2 separate regions of the Homo sapiens genome follow, and region 2 is linked to region 1. Evidence: fine-mapped expression QTL. A gene starts in region 1. The other region holds a variant in brackets. All regions are shown on one strand. Distances are from middle to middle. Region 1 holds the start of POLR1E (RNA polymerase I subunit E). Region 2 overlaps FBXO10 (F-box protein 10).

What was found. PIP is the estimated chance that this variant, and not a neighbour inherited with it, causes the effect. A credible set is the group of variants that fine-mapping cannot tell apart.
Region 2: its variant is the best candidate, but not a certain one, in a credible set for the expression of POLR1E in monocytes (TOPMed, PIP 0.84).

The regions. Positions count from the first base shown.
Region 1 is chr9:37,484,478-37,487,387 of GRCh38, reverse strand. It overlaps POLR1E (RNA polymerase I subunit E), which reads right to left and starts at 1,440. Exons shown (of 12, transcript NM_022490.4): 1 at 1,265-1,440; 2 at 582-685. The coding sequence starts at 1,340. RefSeq lists a silencer at 1,313-1,642 and an enhancer at 1,384-1,975.
Region 2 is chr9:37,513,283-37,516,192 of GRCh38, reverse strand. It overlaps FBXO10 (F-box protein 10), which reads left to right. Exons shown (of 11, transcript NM_012166.3): 10 at 108-289. Among named protein-coding and RNA genes, the nearest start is that of POLR1E, 29 kb to the right of the region's middle. RefSeq lists an enhancer at 294-795. The variant C/T (reference allele first, on the strand shown) is at 1,323.

The DNA of each region.
Region 1 (2,910 bases):
ATTCCAGCCTTCAAGGCTCAGCTCCAACATGACCTCACCAAGGAAGGCATTCTGGCAGAGACCTCTCCTCCCACTGAGCTCACTCTGCCCTGTACTCTTCCCCACGTGGCCTCAGAGCTTTGTGTAAAAGTGTCCCTCACAGCCAGTTCTCATCTCTCTAGAGCAGAGGTTCTCAATCCAGGGAAATCCACTCTGGTGCTACTGGCATCTAATGAGTAGAGACTAGGGATGCTGCCCCCACAGCAAAGAATTATTGGCCCAAAAAGTCAATAGTCCTGAGGTTGAGAAACCCTGCTCTAGAGTATGAACTCTGAGTGGGGCTAGGCCTGATTTGGCTGTTTTCCTAGAAGCTTGCAGCACAGGGATGCAGAGGGGCAGGTTCCATAAATGCTTGTTGAAAGAACAAATGAATGAAAGATGGAGCCTGTCCCCACATCCCAGGCTGCTGGGCATCAGAGTTCTTCAAAGCTCCATTTGCTACTACTCCCCTTTTTCTCCCCTCACTCCCTCCCACATCCACCCACTCCCAGGGGCCTTCTGAGCCCTGCAGAGTGGAGACAGCTGGCAACTGCTTCACTTACCAGGATCCGTTGATTCCTCTTCCTGGGGTTGGTGGAATCTTTGTTCTCATACAAGGTAAAGCGCATGTTGCCTGGACTCTGTAGCTTCCCGTTGGAGAACTGGACTGTAAGAGTGCAGCCCAAGAATGAGATGAGAGCAGAAGGCCACACAATGTACCACACAATGTACGGTGGGACTAGACTGTCACTGGGAGGGAGTGTCAGAATGGGGATGGCAAGGAAGCTCGGGTCCTGACCCAAAGGGAACTGGAGGAGATCCGGGGCCAGCTGAGAAGAGGAGGTAGGGAGGTGGGAGAACCCTGGGGAGGGGCTGTGACAGGAGGGAATGTCTCGCGGAAGGAGGCTGACAGCAGAGGCCTGGTACATACCTAAAGTGACAGAAGGAACCCCTGCCCAGTGAAGAGAGGGAAATGGGGGAGGCGGGAGACCTGGTGGGTGAGGGGGTCAGCAGGGTCCTGGACACAGCTCTGGGGAGCGGGTGAGTGGGATGTCCCAATCTGGCTGGGAGGTAGTGACAGAAAGACGGACAGGGGAGCCCTGACAGAGCCCAGGGGAGTGGTGGAGACTAGAGGGGTCCCGGCCCCGCTGGGGAGAAGCCCAACGGAGGGCGAGAGGACAGCTGAGGTACCGAGACGGAAGGGGAGAGGGTTAGAGGAGCACTGCTCCAGCTCCGCAGTCTTTACCCAGTACAGCTCTCTGGCTCCCGTCGGGCGCCCCACAATACTGCCACCTCGCACTCGGCAACACCTCCGCCGCCATCTCGCCTGTCTGTCCGCCAAGCACAGGAGTTAAGACAGCAGCAGCCACAAGCGCACTTTTAAACACGCGGGAGCCCAGGCCGCGCTGCGGGCCGGAAAAGGCGTGGCCCCGCCGGGCACCGCCCACAGCGCGCGAGCCGCGTGTCCCCGCCCCCCGCGTAGAGAGGCGTGGTCTCCGCCCACAAGGTGCCACACACCCGCTTGACTGGCCGAGGCGCAGCACCTGATTGGCTCAGCGCTCGCGTGCACTCTGGGTTTTGTAGGTCCAGAGCCCGAGGCGCCAAAGGCTTCAGCCTAAGCTTGCTATGAGCCTTCTTCCGGCTCAGCACCTTCTAAAGAGAGTGTCGTCTCTCTCTCCTACCGTGACAAACTCATCTTCCCAAGACCTGAAGGACCAAGTTCAAATTTAGAATTCTCTGACAGGAACTGCTTGAGCCCCAACTAAATGTGGCCGCTGGCGAATAGCCGCCCCTCTCTAGGGCTTCCCACCCACCCACGTGGACATCCAGCTCTAGGTACAAACTTTGTCCACAGTCCGACAAACAGCTCCCCGCCATGGGCTGTGGCGTGCACACCTGTGGCCCAATCAACACTGAGGTGATGGAACAGAAGCCCAGCCAACCCCGGAGCCTTTGGGCAGGAGATTCTGGACTGGAATAGAAGAGGGAGTCCGAGCTGATGGACATGTCCCTTTTTCACTGCGGATTCAACCCTTCTTCTGCACGGGGAGTTTTCAGAGCAGAAAGAAGGCGAAAGCAGGGCCTTTAAGCATGGACGCTGGCCGAGGCCCCCTTTGCCCAAAGATGCGTACTATTGAAGGGCAAGAACTCCGGTTGACTCCCCTCTGTCTTCCAAATCACCTTCTTTCAAGACTCTTTTCCTTCCACACACCCTCAACACCCGCCTCCAACACCCAGGATCCTAGGAATAACCCTAAAGCCTGCATGCCCCTTTGCCTGAGCACTTGTCACGCTTTTCTAATTACCCAATCTCAAACGTAAAGAAACACTGCAAGAAATGTTTTTGCCCTGAACCATTTAGAGTAAGTTGTCAACCTGATACCCTTTCAACCCTGAAGACTATAGTATTTCCTACAGACATTCCCTAAATAACAACACAGCCATCAGAATCAGCAAATTGCCGGGCGCAGTGGTTCACGCCTGCAATCCCAGCACTTTGGGAGGGAGAGGCAGTTCTATCCCTTGATTCCAGGAGTTTGAGACCAGGCTGGGCAACATAACAAGACCCTGTCTCTACAAAAAATAATATTAGCCATGTGTGGTGGCGCACGCGTGTCGTCCCAGCTACTCGGGAGGCTGAGGTGGGAGGATTGCTTGAGCCTAGGAGGCAGAGGCTGCAGTGAGCTGTGATGGTGCCACTGCACTCTAGCCTGGGCGACAAAAAAAAAAAAAAAAATTAAACAGAAAAGAATCAGGAAATTAGCACTGGTACATTACCACCATGTAATCCTCACATCCCATTTAAGTTCACCCATTGTCCCAACGTTTGTTGTTAGTTTGTTTTTTGAGACAGGGTCTCACTCTGTCACCCAGGCTGGAGTGCAGTGTTGC
Region 2 (2,910 bases), 29 kb before region 1:
TGGCATGTTCCTGCCTCTTGGTTTTAGAACTGATAATTCACTTGCCCAGCTCTCCCACTCAGTCTGTGAATCCCTGAGGTGTGACAATCTCTGGCTGCCTCTCCCAGGTAATAAAGAACCGGATCCACTCGTTCCGGGCCTACGGCATCGCCGTGCGGGGCCGTGCCAAGGCCCTGGTGCAGGAAAACATCATCTTCCAGGGCAAAACCAGTAAGACCATCTTTCAGCAGATCTCAAACAACCGAGAATGCATCATGCAAAACAACAAGTTCCTGGTCTTCAAGAAAAAGTGAGTGCTTGGGGTTGCCTGAACGAGTCCTCTAGAGCCACAGTAAGCTCCCTGAAGAAGCCAGGCCCACACCCAGGGATTGTGGCTGCCCGGGCTCCCTGCAACCCTGCCAGCTGTCGACTCCAGTCAGAAAAAGGCCTGTGCCTGGCTCTATGTCAGGCCCGGGCTGAGGACTCCCCAGGAGGGAACAAGCTTTTTAAGAGTCAGGGGTATGTGGTTTCAGATCTCAGCTCTGCAGGTTACTGGCTGTGTGACCTTGGGCAACTTACTTCACATCTTCGAGCCTTAGTAAAATCCATTTAATAAGATCACACTATCTGGCTGAATCTCTGAGGGGCTGTAAAAATGTTAGTTGATGCTGCTGCTGTCCTTTAGTCACTCTGCCTCAATGTATCACAATTGCCGCCACCCATCTTCCTCAAACCTGTCTGTCCTTTCACGTTCTCCATTTCAGCGACATCACCATCCACTCAGTGTTCTGACAACAAAACTTCTGCTGCCTTTTTCTCCCTAATCCGAAGATGTCCAGTCAGTCAGTCACCAGGTCTTGTTGATTCTGCTTCTAAAATGTTCCTTTTTCCAGCACCTCCTCTTCCCCAACTGCCCCCATCCTAATTCAGGTCTCAGCACCGCTCACCCTAACCTGTACCGCCTGTGTTACTGCAATGCACAGCTGTTCCAGTTGCTTCTGCTTGGGCTGTGTTCTGATTGGTCCGTGCTTTCGCTTTCACATTCTGGTTGTAAAATCATACTGATATTTGCTGTAGTTGGTATCACTCCTGCACCGCCAATGTCACCTGTCCCCCTGCAGCAGCCTCCTGCCAGTCTCCCTGCCCGTGGCCACCCCCTGCTCCACTCTGGAGGTTGTCCCATGCATCCTGCCAGGTTAATCTTTCTAAGTGAGAGCTCTGGTCAGTCACATCACATCCATGGTTTAAAACCTCTCATGGATCTTCATGTTCTGTTGTAATGATCTCCATACTTTTTGTATTACACACACTCTCGGGAAAAAATATTCTTTGAAGAAACCCCC[C/T]GATGTAGGTATACCTAATTATTTATTTATTTATTTAGAGACCAAGTCTCACTCTGTTGCCCAGGCTGCAGTGCAGTGGTGCGATCTTGGCTCACTGCAACCTCTTCCTCCCAGATTCAAGCGATCCTCCTGCCTCAGCCTCCTGAGCAGCTGGGATTACAGGCGCCCACCACCACTCCCGGCTGATTTTTGTGTTTTTAGTAGAGACAGTTTCGCCATGTTGACCAGGCTGGTCTCGAACTCCTGACCTCAGGTGATCCACCCGCCTTGGCCTCCCAAAGTATTGAGATTACAGGTGTGAGCCACCGCGCCTCACCGGTATACCTATTTATAACTTATATATGTGTATTCTAGCAGTATATTATTTACATTATAAACTATCCCCAAAATAGAAAATTTTAAAGTATACAGTTAAAAAAAACCAAAATTCTAGTATTTTCTTCCAATATCCCAGCAGATTATATTGTGGACTCCCTGGGATCCACCTCCTCCTTCCCTTTGGAGACCCCAGGGTACAGGATACAGCCCGGACTTTGCCAATGCCAGCTCTGGTATTGTCCGCTGTGTACCCTGAGGTCCTAATTGTCTTTTCCAGCCTCTCATTTCATCACTCCTTTTCAGTAGTGCTCCCCTGCTGCCAAACTCAAATACATACAGTCCTCCCAACATAGCTTAGGCCTTTTTATTCACATGCTAGTAGCCAACCTCTGATTCCGTCCACACCTTTCCAGTCCTTTCATTGTAACATCATTATCATAAAAATACATATAAGACAATGTGTTGCCTTAAGCAAATGGAGACTTAGTGTGTAAAGTTGGTTCCTTGTAACTCAAGCATCAGAAAACTCTGACCACAGCTTCACTATCATTTTATTTTCCCTGGCCCTCCATGCTCTCTACAAGAGTTTGGGTGACTGGAAACCCACCAACTTCTATCCCCCATAGATTTGCATTTTCCCAAATGTCATATAAAAGAAATCGTGGCCGGGTGCGGTGGCTCACGCCTGTAATCCCAGCACTTTGGGAGGCCGAGGTGGGTGGATCACCTGAGGTCGGGATTTCGAGACCAGCCTGGCCAACATGGTGAAACCCCATCTCTACTAAAAATACAAAAATTAGCTGGGCATCATGGCACGCAACTGTAGTCCCAGCTACTCGGGAGGCTGAGCCAGGAGGATCACTCGAACCTGGGAGGAAGAGGTTGCAGTGAACCCAGATCACACTACTGCACTCCAGCCTGGGTAACAGAGCAAGACTCCGTCTCGGAAAAAATATATATATATATTAAAAAATAAAAGTAAAAACAAAAAAAACCCAGAAATCCTGCAGTATGTAGTCTTTTGAGTCTGGCTTCTTTCACTTAGCCTAACATGCTGGAGATTCATTCATGGTGTTGCATGTAAGGCGTTCATTCCTTTCAATTGCTGAGTAGTCTTCCCCTGTATGGGTGTACTGCACAGTTTATTCACTCATCAGCTGAAGCGTATTTAGGTAGTTTCTAGTTTTTGGTGATTATGAATAAAGCTTCTATAAACATTTGTGGTCATAGAGCTGAAAAGAAATGAAAGAGGAAAAGCTGGCACCGTGGC